Regions from separate parts of the Homo sapiens genome. Here region 2 is linked to region 1. The links come from fine-mapping of genetic effects on gene expression. A gene starts in region 1. The other region holds a variant in brackets. All regions are shown on one strand. Distances are between the middles of the regions. Region 1 holds the start of LAMB3 (laminin subunit beta 3). Region 2 holds the start of TRAF3IP3 (TRAF3 interacting protein 3).

Region 1 (2,904 bases):
CCTAGAGCACACTAGCCCTTTTTCTTTTCTGTTTCTAGACTCAAGTATTTTTCAGAAGTCTTTACCTAGGGTCCTGATCTAGGACACTTGGAGCAGCAGATACATTTGTAGCTTGGAAAATGCTGGAGCTCTAGACCCTTGTCTCAAGTGGCATGTGACTCACAGGGTGCCCTGGGAAAATCCCATCCCTTCCCAGACTCCAGCTTCCTCCTCTAAAATGGATGGGAAGGAGTGTGGACCCTGCCCTACCCCACACAGCCGTAAGGACAACGTGGGGAGCAGGAAAAGGCTGGACCCTTTGCAGGAGAAAAGCTGTAGAAAGGGCCAAGACCTAGTTCCAGCCCCAAGAGAGAGGGCTGGCTTTTCTCAGGGCCTAGACCAGCAGCCTCAACCCAGCCCCGCCCAAAGTGAATGAGTCAGAGTGGCTGACGGCCTGGAGGCAAACCTTCTCCTGTCACGGGCATGGCCTCCAATACCATTCAGGGCCACTTTGAGTTTGAGGCTCTGTGCCCACAATTCTGGGATGCAACAGGGAGAGATGTATGGCTGTCTTTAACAAGTGAGTGAGGGTTTCTTCTGAAAGGGAAGCAACCCAAAATGTCTTCAATGATGGGCTGGGGCTCGACAAGAGGGGTGGGGCTGGGAGGCCACAAAGCAGGGATTCTGAAGGAGGCTGGGGAAGGATGCTCGAAAGCCACCGTGGGGTCCCAGAGGCAGGCCTGCCTTGTGGAAACATGCCCCACCCTTGCTCATGCAGTGACCCTTCTGCCTTGAATTGGATGTTCACTCTGTTCCAATGACAGCCACAAACTCTTTTGGCTGGGGTGGAGGGCTGGGGGCTTGGCAAGGCAGGGGCGGGGGGGGAAATTGAGGACATTTCTGGCATCTTTAAATTATAGATCCTAATGCTTCAAAATCATTCCTTCCAATCCCTCTCCTAAAAGAGTCATGGGCCCAGGGAGGGAACATGTGGCCTGGGGTCCCACAGCTAACGATGGCCTAAGAGAGACCCATCTTCTGACTTTCATCCAGTGCTTTCTCAGCTTTCCCACCCCTGACTGAAAATCCCCCTGCAAGTAGGCATTCTGAGCCAGGCCAGCCCACCCTTCTCACTTCTCTTTTGTGCTCAACCCCGGATCTGAACCTGCTTTCTTCTAAGCCACTGAGGTGCTTATCAAATGTGAAAAAGAAATCAAAACTGTAGCAGACATTTTAACCTAGCTCACCTGAGTGAGCTCCCAGGAAGAGGAATAAATCAGGCCCTGAAACCAGGCCCCAGGCATCCAGAGATACAGTCCTCCTCCCGCATCCGGCCCGCACCAGGCAGGTAAAGACAGGTAACATACCTTGCTGTGTGTTCTGCCGTTCTTTCTCCAGATCGCCTGAAAGCTCCTCTTGAATGTGGGGGTCTCCCCTCCCGGCTCCAGGTTTTTAAACAACAGCCTCACCTCTGGAGACTCCCTGGCTGGGTGTAGCCCCACCGCAGGGCGGGTCTCAGGAATCTGGCAGCCGTCACACCCATCTGTCGTCACTGCACCCCCACCTCCCAGGACGGGACTGGGCAAGTGGGTTGGTCGGTCCGTCCCAGAGTTCTTGTAGTGAGCTCCACAATGCCCACCTGCCTGTGGGGGCTGCAAGGGGCCCCTCAAACAGAAAGCACAAGGCACATGTAAGTGATCATCAGAGACCAGAATTCACAGGGTGGGGAAGGGCCCTTGCATTTGTGCCAGGCAATGAACTCAGCATTTTCCCAAAGCCAGCAGGGGTCAGCTTCTTCTTGTGACCTGGACCACCCCAGACAGAAGATCAGGCAGAGAACACAAAGATTAGGGCTTATATAGAGAGTTAAAGCTCCAGACATATCACCGGGCTGGAAGGTGAGAAGACTCAAACATCCAGGACCCTGGAAAGCACCATTCCCCTCCCCAGTGAAAAAAAAAATGAAAAATCCCAGCTTCTTGGGGCATTTGGAGGATCCTTAAAAGGCAAGGTTCATCAGGAAGGATTCAAAGCTCAACTCATCCAAGGAAAGCTTAAGAGAAATGAGCAGAGTAACTAAATGGCTCGCCTCCAGCTCCCTCCACAGGGTTGGCAGGGAGCCCTGGGACAGGTAGCTGCCTGTGAGTCACTCCTCCCACCTGTGGGGAGGGTTAGTCTCCTAGCCCCTCCCTCCCTAGGCAGGAATGCCCGCCTGGAGGGCCAGAAAACAGACCTGACCACAAGTGGTGGAAGGAAAGGCTGAAGCATAGCTTGACTGACAAAGTCAAAACAGACTTTCCCTGGCCTCCTGCCAGGCCTGAGAACACAGCTTCTTTTGTGGGCTCCTTGCTCAGGGATCCTGGGCTTCCAGCCACTGTAAATGGAAGTGGCAGGTCCAAATTGAGAGGCTGGTCTCACAGGACACTCTTTCCCCCAGGTTAGGGTCAGAGAGCTTTTAGGGAAACCTGGAGGGTCAGCCAGTCCATATCTTGGCCCTGGAGAGCCTGCACTGGCACCGTTTTGGAATGCTAGGACCTCAAAGCTACTATTTAAAGGAGCTTCTTAACTACGATTCCACTTTGTTAGTGTCTCCTAAACAGAAAGTTCTCCACCATTGGAGGGTTATGTCCAAGAAATTGGCTTGAAGACCCTTAAGGGGGAAATGTAGAATTTTGTGGATTAAATTGGGCATTTCTAACCCTCAGATTCGAATTAAGCATAAGTTCAGGTAGGCAGAAGAAATAGTGTAATTAGCAAGTGGGCAGTGAGTTGTTGATGTAAGTTGATGCATAATTGATAGTCCAATAAATGTTAGAGTCTTGCCCCCTGTAAGCATTCCAGTGAAATCTAGCTCAACTCAGCAAGTAAGGTCAGTAGAAGCAGTGTCCCTTCAACACAGAGAGACCTCCCTCAAGTCCCCCACCG
Region 2 (2,904 bases), 100 kb after region 1:
GACATCCGGCTAATTTTTTATATTTTTGGTAGAGATGGGGTTTCACCATGTTGGCCAGGCTAGTCTTGAACTCTTGACCTCAAGTGATCCACCCACCTGGACCTCCCAAAGTGCTGGGATTACAGGTGTGAGCCACTGTGCCCGGCCAAAATTCTCTTTTTCTGACATCTTGGGCTCCCCAAGCCCTCTGTCCTCTACTCATTCCCATCTCTATGTGTCAAGCTCCAGACACAGGGCCTTGAGCTGTTGTCTCTCATCCTGAGTAAATGCCACTTGTCTTCAGTCCTAGTGCTTGAGAATCCATCCTCTGCTTTTCCCTGCCGATTCCTTGTCCTTTTTCTCCTCAAAGAACAGAGAAAGAAGCAGAAGCAGAGAAAATGGTGACAAACTCTCCACATGTTAATAAATGTTATCACAGCTATTTTTAAGTCTCATTACCTGCCTCACATGTGTCAAACCTTAGAATTCCAAAGAGCCACATACATCACCCAACTACCACAGTGAGTAGCATCCAGACAAGGTGAATTTTACAAGGTTACAAAGCTGCTCAGTTAACTTGTCCCAATCCAGTTTCCTCTCCACTATTTTAGCCTGAACTTCTTGGGAATTTCCTGGCTGCATCATTTGTGATGGCTTCATCTTAATGCATGCAAATCAGTTCCCTTTAGTTTTTCCCTAAATTTCCTAGTCCGGTTGACCAGATAAAAAAATGTGTAGAAGACTCTGCCTTCTATTCCTTCCTTCATCCCCCAGCTACCCACCTTTACACTCCCTCCTCATTGCTCCAGAAAGGAGCAAATCCAGAGTTGGTCTCATTCCAGAATCTGAGAAAGACACCACCTACTTCAGAAGAGCAGAAACTCTTTACAACACCAGGATTGGGAAGAGGTGGCTAAAGAAAAAGGAAAATCCTTACACAAAGAACTACCTGATACACATGAAAGCCTACACTGAGAACATCTCATCTAGGTCTTACCACCAAAAAGGCATTTTTTTCCCTCTCATAGAAACCACAAAGGTCTGAATCTGACCCAGAGGACTATCCTTTTCTAATCATGGAAAGGAATCTTGACTTGAAACTGTCCAAGAGCTCCGACCAATCCAGTAGCAAGAGAAAGGGTGGCCGGGGTGCCTACTGATGGGAGGAGCTCCTGAGCCCAGCCCTGGAGGCCTCAGAGTTCAGGGGCCCACTTAGATGATACCAGAGAGCAAGAGAGAGGAACTGGGGTTTGCGAACCTTGTGGCTTTGTCTGTTTCCTGTTTCAGCAAGGCTGCTGTGCAAAAAGAAAGACGGTACCAAGAAGGGACGTGTTAATGGGGCCCAGACCTATGGATTGAAAGCGTGTGCTTTACCCATCTGCTGTCTTGCTCCAT[C/A]TGAGACCAGAGCCAAGATCTGCCCAGGACTGGAATGCTTTCCCGAGTGGCTTGAGTTGGAGCCTGGGACTAGGAGGTAACTGAGAAGGAGGATGCTTTTGTGTCCAGGTTTGGGAACTCCAACTTCGGGGTAGGGCAGAAGATGCTCTACCATCCCAGCTCCCCTGGGTGGAGAGTGGGTGGCATAGTTTAAGGGTGTCAGGGGTTTGGGTAACCAAGAAAGTATCCTGTATTGGTTTCCTGTGGCGCTAGCCATGGCACAGGGTACAGCTTGCACCACTCCTCTGTTCCAGTAGATTAGATTACATTAGATTAGGAGTGAGTCAAACGACTTAGAGTTCAGGCTACCCAGTGATATGGGCATGAATTAAATGACCTTTTACAGTTTTCTTCAAAGCAGGGATCCCTGAACACAAGACTGCCTTCCCAGCAGCTTAAGCGCAGGCCCCTCTCCCCTCAGTTCACACTGAGAGCTCTGGGCCAGGAAGGCCAACCCATGCAGGAAGCCATTCATTGTCTCCATTACAAACATGGCCAGGAAGTAAAAGCGAGACTCAGAAAGGCATGTCAAGCCACAGTCAGGTGAGGAGCCATGCCCTGTTCTCTCTCTGCAGCCTGAGAGACCAGGCTGAGCCTTCCCAGCCAGTAAACCTTCTTCCTCCAAGCTCTAAGTGAGCCCAGTCATGCTGCCAGGGGGGAACCTGAGAGATGCCAGAAAGCCTGGGCAGTGGCCAAGTGATCTTTCTTTGAACCCTACAGGGACCAGTTCCCTTTTCTTTAGCAGCCTACCCCTGTCAGCCGTCCCACATACCTTCTTGTTTTCAAGCAAGTCAGTAGGGTCCAGATATCCCAGAAACCTGGGTAGGGTTCTATGCAGCATGCTGCACCAAATCCTAGCAGGTGTGGTAGCCAAGGCATCTGGGAACACTCCCCTCTCTAAGGAGCCATTTCCACTGCAGCTCCTTTCTTGGGTAAGAAGGCTCCATGTCTGCCCCAAGGAAGCAGAGAGCAGAGCAGCTGTGTGTTTCAGTGGACTAAGGTTGGTGGCCTGGGTGGAGAGCCCAGAGAGACCTCATCTCAGGCACTGTCTTCTCCCCCACAGCCCTTTCCTCTTCGCGGCAAGAAGGTAGGAGGATTCTCAATGTTCTGCCTCCACTACAAAACCTGTGGGGAAGCTGAGCCAAACAGGGAGGGGACCTCACACCTTATGTGTGACACAGGCAGACCCCATCTCTTCCTTACCTTTCGGCTTGGTGTAATTGGGATGGCAATTATGTCCAGACCACAGAGAAGCCTTTCTCCTTATAGCCCAAACCCAGAGGTCAGAAGTAAATGTGACTTCAGCCTGGGGCCAGCATCCCCTCAATCTGGTAAACAATATACTCTGTCAAAGAGAGAGAGGGTTGAGAGGATGAGAGAAGGCATTCTTGGTCCTAGAAGTGCTAGTTTAGCTTGGAGCCTTTGTCTTACAGCACCAAGTCTTCAATATCCAACATCGGCATAACAAGGATAATATTCGCAATTACTTTT

What was found.
Region 2: its variant is fine-mapped to the expression of LAMB3 in whole blood (TOPMed, PIP above 0.99).

Annotation. Positions count from the first base shown.
Region 1 is chr1:209,651,023-209,653,926 of GRCh38, forward strand. LAMB3 (laminin subunit beta 3) reads right to left here and starts at 1,403. Exons shown (of 23, transcript NM_000228.3): 1 at 1,347-1,403. RefSeq lists an enhancer at 905-2,104.
Region 2 is chr1:209,754,860-209,757,763 of GRCh38, forward strand. It overlaps TRAF3IP3 (TRAF3 interacting protein 3), which reads left to right and starts at 1,194. Exons shown (of 17, transcript NM_025228.4): 1 at 1,194-1,450. RefSeq lists enhancers at 917-1,076, 1,357-1,766. The variant C/A (reference allele first, on the strand shown) is at 1,375.